Regions from separate parts of the Homo sapiens genome. Here region 2 is linked to region 1. The links come from fine-mapping of genetic effects on gene expression. A gene starts in region 1. The other region holds a variant in brackets. All regions are shown on one strand. Distances are between the middles of the regions.

Region 1 (4,395 bases):
GCACTTATTATAACTTATTGTAATTTAATGTTGTGGTCTCATCCCTCTTTTCTGTCTGTGTTCCCACTAGTGTTACCGGAAAAGGATCCCAATCCAGACTCCAGGAGAAGAATTCAAGGCAAGTTCATAAAGTGAAAGCAAATTTATTAGGGAAGTAAAGAAACAAAAGGATGGCTATTGCAGGCAGGGCAGTGGCACGGGCTGCTCGACCAGATATACTTATAGTTCTTTCTTGATTACATGCTAAACAAGGGGTGGATTATTAGTGAGTTTTCTGGGAAAGGGGAGGGGATTTCCCAGAACTGAGGGAAACTTTTAGACCACATAGGGTAGCGTCTGGACGTTGTCATGACATTTGTAACCTGTCATTGCACTGGTGGGAGTGTCTATTAGCATGGTAATGCATTATAATCAGCATATAATCAGCAGTGAGAATGACCAGAGGTCACCATCTTGGTTTTGGTGGGTTTTGGCCAGCCTCTTTATTGCAACCTGTTTTATCAGTGGGGCCTCTGTGGCCTGTGTCTTGTACCTACCTCCTATGTCATTCTGTGACAAGAACGCCAAACCTGCTGGAAATGCAGCCCAGTAGGTCTCAGCCTCATTTTATCCAGCCCCTATTCAAGATGGAGTTGCTCTGGTTCAATGCCTCTGACACTAGTGTGCCCAGAGGCGCACGCGCTGGGCTCTCGCAGGTGCAATCATTCTCTTCTCTGCGTCCCGCCCTCCTGGTAACTGACAAGCACCCATCTCAGCCCCTCACCTTTCTCGTGATACGGCCAGCCCTCTCTTCTACTTGATGGGCACCTGACATGGTGAGGGTGGTGGGGTTCAGTCAACACATGTGAAATGAATTTCCACAAGAGTGGCTGGAAAACAAGACCGGAGAGGGAGGAAGCAGCTGGATTTTTGAGCTCCCTGGGTCACAGAGGAGCCCGATACTGCCTGTTTATGAAATCGTTGCTACCCAGCAGGCAACCAAATAAAGACACCCCAGAGTTTAGGAGACAGATTGGGAGCTGGGGGTGGGGGAGGTCACACAGATTAAACCATGTTCTCATCTAGTTCAAAATACTCCTGCCTGGCCCATTTTTAGGAACAGTGCTCAGAAAGAAAAAGTAGAAGGGTGCCCCGGGCCTGCACCTGTTCATGGTCTGCCTTTGGGGGCTGGAAAGCCCATTAGCCAGGCGAGTGTCCTCATCAGGCCAACGTGGGCCCATATCCCTGCTCTGCTGGGGGCGCTGGCAGACTATAAAGGCTCTCTCCGAGGCTTCACTGTCCTCATCCCAAAAAGAAGGACGCGATGCCCCTGTCCTCAGAGCTGAAGTCACAGCCAGTGAACAGGGCTGCCTGTAGGTGGAGCCCCTGGCACAGAGGGGTGCGCGTTACCTGCTCTCACCTGCTCAGACAGGAGGGGGCCTCTCAGATCTGGAAAAAGAGCCAAGCGCGCCCCCTCCCCAGGCCCCCTGGTGGCGCCAAACTTCCCAAAGTTTCGGGCAGCTGCGGCACTAGTCGGTGGTCTATTTCAGACCCGCTGGAAAAGGGAGCAGAGTATCAGTGAAGTCTATAATTGGACAGAAAGTTGTCAGCCCCTCTTTTGGGCTTCCCAGGGCCACCTCGTTACTGCCTGGACCCTAACGCTGTCCAGTCCCCCACAGCCCTCCCGAGGTCCCTGCCCACCTTTCCCCGCAGCCCCTCGCCACTGTCCGGGGCCTCGTCGGCCTCTCTCGTTTTCTCTGGGGTCCGCCCCTGCACCTCCGGCCCCTCCCCGCTCCCAGCCCCCTGATTTTCCTCCTCCTTCGCGGCTTGGCCCCCGCCCGCTCCCGCCCCGAGCTCCTAGGCCCGCCCCCGCCCCAGCTCCTCCCCAGCCCCGCGCTCTTAGCCGGGGAATCCCAGCGCTGAGGCCAGCTTGCCCCTGGGGAGGCTCCAGACAGCTTTGTTCCTGGGCAGTGGCGGGGCTGGCCGAGGCTGCGGCGTTTCTCCCCAAGGAAGTGTCTTCTCCGCTTTCCCTGTTCTTCTGTTTCTCACACACTTTCTATCTCATTCTGTAACTTTCAAGCCTTTCCTTCTAACTGTATGTATTTAGTTACTTGTTTTCAAGCTGGTTCCCTCTCTGGCCCCCTGGCCTGGGGAAAGCCTCCACACTTACTGCGGGTCTTGTTTAGAGTCTGAGTTTGTGAGATTATTTGGGGGAGAGTGGGCGAGTGGCTGACAGGTGACCCCCAGGAGGAGGATTCCTGGGGCTGGTGTCTTCTCCCAGCTGCTGCTTCCAGTGGGCCTGGGCCCAGGACTGGACCTCCGCTGGCACCCCTGAGTGCCTCCCTGCCAGGTAAGACCCGGGTTCTCTTCTTTGCTGCAGTGCTGAAGGTCACAGACTTCAGCTGACGCCCATCTTCCCAGATGACAGTGAGGGACGAGAGGCGGGGGGTGGATGCGGGCTGGGGAGATGTTCTCTCCAAATACAGACGCGTTTCCTTCTGAAGCCTGAGCACACTTCGCTCTTTAGGGAGTGACTATAGTTGGAAGCAGATGTGTCTGTGTCTTGACTTAACTTCAGAGTAAAATAGCGGCAAATCCGTGAGAACACACCTGTTTGATTCTAGCTGAGCAGCGAGGAGCTCAGCGATGGCCGCCGAGAGTCAAATGCGAGAGCTTGTTTTCAGATTGCTATAATACTTTAAAGTAGTTGAGATGTACCAGCTCTTTAAACTTTCAAGTAAGAAGTTTGCAGTAAAAGGAGAAAAAGATGCGGGGGAAATGGAGCAGGGGGTGGGGAAAGAATAGTCTTCGTTTGGTTTTACATTTACTGTCAGGGAACTTAGCTTTCTTGATCTAAATTTAGATCTCATTTCTATTTGAGCATTTTATCCCCCCTCTCCCAGCCTTCTCTAGGTCAGAGAGGTGTTTTTGTCCTTCCCCCAATCCCTGCGTATCATGTTCTGTAGCAGACCAGAGTTTCGTGTGCCACTTTATTGAGCACGATTTGAATTAGCTGTGTTATTGGAAAATGAGTCCTCACTTCTCCCCACTCAAGGCAAGACTCAGGGATGACAGGTGGACATGCTTATCAACCATCTGCAGAAGGAGGCACCGCCTGCCGGCCTGTTCCAGAGCTGTGTGCCGGGTCCCCCTCCTCAGAACTTCATTCCATGACTTGTCATCTTCCAGAGCCCCATCCTGACACTTTTTTTTTTTTTGAGGCCGAGTTTCACTCTTGTTTCCCAGGCTGGAGTACAATGGTGCGAGGTGCAGCCTCGGCTCACTGTGACCTCTGCCTCCCGGGTTCAAGCGATTCTCCTCCTGACTCAGCCTCCTGAGTAGCTAGGATTACAGGCATGAGCTACCATGCCCGGCTAATTTTATATTTTTAGTAGAGATGCGGTTTCTCCATGTTGGTCAGACTGGTCTCCAACTCCCGACCTCAGGTGATCCGCCCACCTTGGCCTCCCAGAGTGCTGGGGTTACAGGCATGAGCCACCACGCCTGGGCCCATGCCGACACTCCTATGTCTACGTGGGTCTTTCTCACTCCTAATCTGTCTCTCATTGATGATTTCTACCAGGCAAATCATGGAAAGCTGAAGGCCACATCTTCAGGCTCCTGGTTAAGTTCAAAGGTTCCAGGAAAATTTGAAATTGCAGGGCTTCATTTTTGTTAGAGGCCTGCTGCATGGGGTACGCTGCCCAGCTGCATGCAAGTTGCAGTTGAAGGATGTGAGCTTTGCTGCTAGTCTTGTCTTCCAGTGCTAACTCTGTTGCTCTCTTTGGCTGCCCTGGGTCAAGCAGCTATCCTCAGTGAGCCTCAATTTTCTCTTTTGCTGATGGAGCTGATGGAAGAGATAGAGATAGATAACACAAGAGGCATCTGGTACGTGGTGAGCATGCAATATATCTTAGTTTGCTTCTGTTTCACACACCTGGGGAGCTTCAGCAGGAAGCACCCCCACCTCATTCTAGATTTCCTTGTCGCTGTGCTACTGAGGCACTGCGCAACTGTGGGAAATGGTCACTTTGATATTGTTGGGCCTGTCTTATTAGACAAGATGCTGCATCCAATGAGGATTTTCTTTCCTGGGGTCCAAGAGTGGCTCCCAGGGATCCATGCATCCTTTAAAACATTTGGAGCAGAAGTTTGTGTCTGGTTTTTCTGTGGTTTGGTCAAACTTTCATCAGATTCACGAAAGGTTTTATACCTACAAAATGATTAAGTAAATGGCCCCTAAACGGATGCAGTCCACAGACAGTTTTAAGGCTTTGTGTGTAGTTTCAGTTATTGCCAACATAAAATGATCAGGAGATTTCATGTTACAAATCTTAGTCTCTGGTTTCTCTTTTGGCTGGAATCCCTGCAAGGCTGTCCATGGCTGGGGTGAGGATTAGCCATCCCCTTTAGACA
Region 2 (4,395 bases), 24 kb after region 1:
TGGGAGAAGCAATGTTGCTGAGTGACTGAGTATGGACCTATGGTTAGATTGTTTGGGATTGAATCCTTCCCATGACTCCTAGATATGGGAGTCATGGGAGGATTACTTAAGCCCAAGTTCTTCAGTTTCTTACTCTGTACAATGGAGCTAATTATGCCTACTGTTCAGACTAAATGAATTATTATTTATAAAGCCCTTAAAGTGGCTACTGCACTTATGAGCATGTAATGTACGTAAATGGTTTAATGTATGTTAATGGTTTAGTGCTGGGAAGAGCAGGGGCTTTGGCGCCCTTCAGATCTGATGCCAAGACCAGCTGTCATTACTAGGGTGTGTGCTTAGGGAAGTTGTCTATCCTCCCTGAACCCAGGTTCATCACTGGTAAAGGGGGTGATTAGTACTAATTTGCAAGTCTGCTGTGATTACTCTATTTCTAGAACATTTTCATCACCTGAGACAGAAAATCTGTCAACCATTAAGCAATCAGATGAGATATCTTTCTTCTTATTTAGGTCTTTAACTTTTGTCACTAGTGTTTCGTAGTTTTCAGTGTATGTGTCATTGTTGATTACATTTATTCCTAACATTTTATCCTTTTTGATGCTACCATAAATGAATGAAATCATTTTCCTAGTTTTCTTTTTGCATTGTTCATTGCTGGTGTACAGGAACACAACAAACTTTTTTTTTTTATACGGAGTCTCACTCTGTCGCCAGGCTGGAATATGGTGGAACGATCTCAGCTCACTGCAACCTCCACCTCCTGGGTTCAAGCAATCATCCTGCCTCAGCCTCCTGAGTAGCTGGGACTACAGGCTCATGCTGCCATGCCCGGCTAGTTTTTTTTTTTTCTTTGTATTTTTGTAGAGACGAGGTTTCACCATGTTGCCCATGCTGGTCTCGAACTCCTGAGCTCAGGCAATCTGCCTGCCTTGGCCTCCCAAAGTGTTAGGATTACAGGCATGAGCCACTGTGCCCAGCCCACAACAAACTTTTGAGTGCTGGTTTTGTATCTTATACTTCGTTGAATTTGTTTATTGGTTCTACCAGTTTTGGGGGTATTATTTGGGTTTTTCCACATATACGATCATGCCATCCGTAGCTGGACATGGTGATATGTGCCTGTAGTCACAGCTACTTGGGAGGCTGAGGCAGAAGGATTGCTTAAGCCAGGAGTTCAAGGCTGCAGTAGGCTATCATTGTGCCACTGAACTCTAGCATGTGAAACAGAGTGAATCCCCATCCCTAAAAAAAAAGATAAGGCCATCTGCAAATAGAGATAATTTTACCTCTTCCTTTTCAAGTTGAATGCCTTTTATTTCTTTTTCTTGCCTAGTTGCTGTGGCTAGAACTTCCAGTAGCATGTTGAGTAGATACGGCAAAGAAGCATCCTTGTTTTGTTCTTGGAAAAACTTTCAGTCTTTCACCATTGAGGATGACGTTAGCTGTGAATTTTTCATAGATGGCCTTTATTATCCTGAGGAAGTTTTTTTATAGTCTTATTTTATTTTTTTTATCATGAAAGGGTGCTGGGTTTTGTCAAATGCTTTTTCTGCATCAGTTGGATTCACTATGTATTTTCTTCTTCCCTTCATTCTGCTTATGTGGTATGTTACATTGATTGATTTTTGTATGTTGAACCACTCCTGCATTCCTGAGATAAACCTCACTTGGTCATGGTGTCTGTTACTTTTACTATGCTGCCCGAATTTGATTTGCATTTCTTTTTGTAAATATTTTTGCATCTATGTTTATAAAGGATATTGGTCTTTAGTTCTGTCTTTTCTTGAGTATTTAGAAAGATATATGACAAAGATTTCTCTAAAAACTTGGAGATTACAACATTGATAAAGCCGGGTTTCTGCAATGAGGGAAATTATCAAATTTCTAGAGCCTGGGAAAATACTGAACAACGATGGATGATCCATTTTATTTCCCGCCCTCACTGGCCACCATCTTTCTTATTTCACAAGACAAAGGCGGCTCAGTAGTTGCAGCTAATATTTGCTTTAACTTTTAGGATACATGTGCACAATGTGCAGGTTAGTTACATATGTATACGTGCCATGCTGGTGTGCTGCACCCACTAACTCGTCATTTAGCATTAGGTATATCTCCTAATGCTATCCCTCCCC[A/G]CTCCCCCCACCCCACAACAGTCCTCAGAGTGTGATGTTCCCCTTCCTGTGTCCATGTGTTCTCATTGTTCAATTCCCATCTATGAGTGAGAACATGCGGTGTTTGGTTTTTTGTCCTTGCGATAGTTTACTGAGAATGATGATTTCCAATTTCATCCATGTCCCTACAAAGGACGTGAACTCATCATTTTTTATGGCTGCATATTATTCCGTGGTGTATACGTGCCACATTTTCTTAATCCAGTCTATCATTGTTGGACATTTGGGTTGGTTCCAAGTCTTTGGTATTGTGAATAGTGCCAGTTGCAGCTAATATTTGGATTTGTTGTATCCATTGAGTTCAGGGAAAGAGTGTGGGTTTAGTGCCCAGAAGAGGCCTAGGTTTCAGCCCCAGTCCCTTCTTTCACCAACTGAGTGACGTGGGGAGAGACACATACCTTCTCTCCACCTCAGTGTCCTCCTTTACCCAGTGGAAATGATGATGCCTGCCTTGAAGAGTCACATGAGCTCATGCAATAATCAGATACTGCTTGGCATATGGTAGATAATAAGTGATAATCAGTTACTTTCATAGTTCCTTGATGATGCCTATATTCTTCTGATGAATGACTCCTGGCTACCCCAATGTAATATGATACTATAACAGCATCAGATGCTGGCCGTTCATCATTCATTCATCAATCTAATGCTTATTTAGGTGACCACTACATGCTAGGAGCTGTTCTAGGTGCTAGGCAACAGAATGGACAAGTCCGACAAGTCCTTGTCTCCATACAGCTGTGAAGCATGAGAGGGCTGGGCGATCAGCTCTGACTTGCTAAGATTCTGTGCCTCTCCCCTGGACCATCTGACTCCTGACCTTGGAACCCTGACTGCCCTTATGTGTTCCATTTTTGGACAGTGCTTTTCTTCCTGTTCCTGTAGCTGCCTCCTGCTGCTCTCTGAGTATTGTCATTCAGACTATTATACCCTGTGCTCTCACAAGTGGCCTTTAGAGCCCTGGTAAGACCTGAGTGCACTTTGCCCTGAAGGTGGTAGGAACCAGATTATACCTCTCCTGAGAGCAACCTGCATGCCTGTCATGCATAGGGAAGTTCCCTAAGTACCACACTCTGGCCCACTCTGGGGCCTGGCAGATGCCATTCCTTCTGCCTGAAATTATCACCTATTTTTTGTCTGGCTGAGTCCTGCTCAGCCTTCCAAACTCACCTTGGAAGGAAGCTGGGAAGCCTGACCTTCCCCTGAAATAGTCAGGTGATGGACATCCCCACCTCTGTGCCTTCCCCTACAACCCCCTGGGCTTCCTTCTACCAGCACTCACTTGATCCTCCCTCCCCCTGGTGTGTGTCTTACCTGTGTCACAGGGTCATTGAGAACCTGTGCAGGGTAGGCTCAGTGTCATTTATCTACCTATCCTCAGCACCTGGCACAGGAGGGCAACTCGTGAATATTTCCTAAATGAAGAAATCAATAGTGAAATGTGTATTGTTTTCCCTGTCCAGGACCTTGGCTTTAACAATGAAAAATACGTTTAGAAATGTACAGCCACATGAAAATAAAATATACAGAAGGGAAAATACACTTAGCTAATAAGCCTCATGGAACAAAGAAATGCATGGGAAACAAGCAACAATGCCTCTTCTGTTGAGTTAACCAAAGATTGAAGGAGTGATAATACTCAATGCTAACAAGTAGGTGGTGACAGGAGCACCCGCACACTCCCACACTGCTGGAGGCAGTGGACATTGGTACAATATTTTCAGAAAGCAATTTGGCAATACGAGTCAGGATTCTTGCAAAACTCTTATGACCCCCTAAGTGTTTTTCTACAAATCTACCCTCAGAAAATAATTACACATGGGTAAGACTTAGGTGCAAAGATGTCCTCTGTAGCATATTAAATAAATAAAATGACCTACTAAATGTCCCAAAGTAGAAATTGCAATTAAAACAATGACGCCAGTGCCACAGGTATAGTTCTAGGTAGCCAATAATGGTGACATTTTTAAGGAATTTTTAATAGGCCAGACATTGCTCAAGATATAATGTTAAGAGAGACTGGCCGGGTGTGGTGGCTCACGCCTGTAATCCCAGCCCTTTGGGAGGCCGAGGCGGGTGGATCACGAGGTCAGGACTTCAAGACCAGCCTGGCCAACATGGTGAAGCCCCATCTCTACTAAAAATACAAAAATTAGGTGTGGTGGCAGACACCTGTAATCCCAGCTACTTGGGAGGCTGAGGCAGAGAATTGCTTGAACCC

Which allele goes with the higher level. Alleles are on the strand shown, and positions count from the first base shown. SD is a standard deviation of normalised expression in the study named.
With allele A in place of G in region 2, the expression in gastroesophageal junction of the gene that starts at base 1,907 in region 1 is higher (moderate effect, 0.57 SD a copy in GTEx).

The links. PIP is the estimated chance that this variant, and not a neighbour inherited with it, causes the effect. A credible set is the group of variants that fine-mapping cannot tell apart.
Region 2: its variant is the best candidate, but not a certain one, in a credible set for the expression of COL22A1 in gastroesophageal junction (GTEx, PIP 0.59).

What each region holds. Positions count from the first base shown.
Region 1 is chr8:138,911,553-138,915,947 of GRCh38, reverse strand. COL22A1 (collagen type XXII alpha 1 chain) reads left to right here and starts at 1,907. Exons shown (of 65, transcript NM_152888.3): 1 at 1,907-2,329. RefSeq lists an enhancer at 1,961-2,806.
Region 2 is chr8:138,887,318-138,891,712 of GRCh38, reverse strand. The region is part of intron 1 of COL22A1 (collagen type XXII alpha 1 chain); the gene reads left to right. Among named protein-coding and RNA genes, the nearest start is that of COL22A1, 25 kb to the left of the region's middle. The variant A/G (reference allele first, on the strand shown) is at 2,136.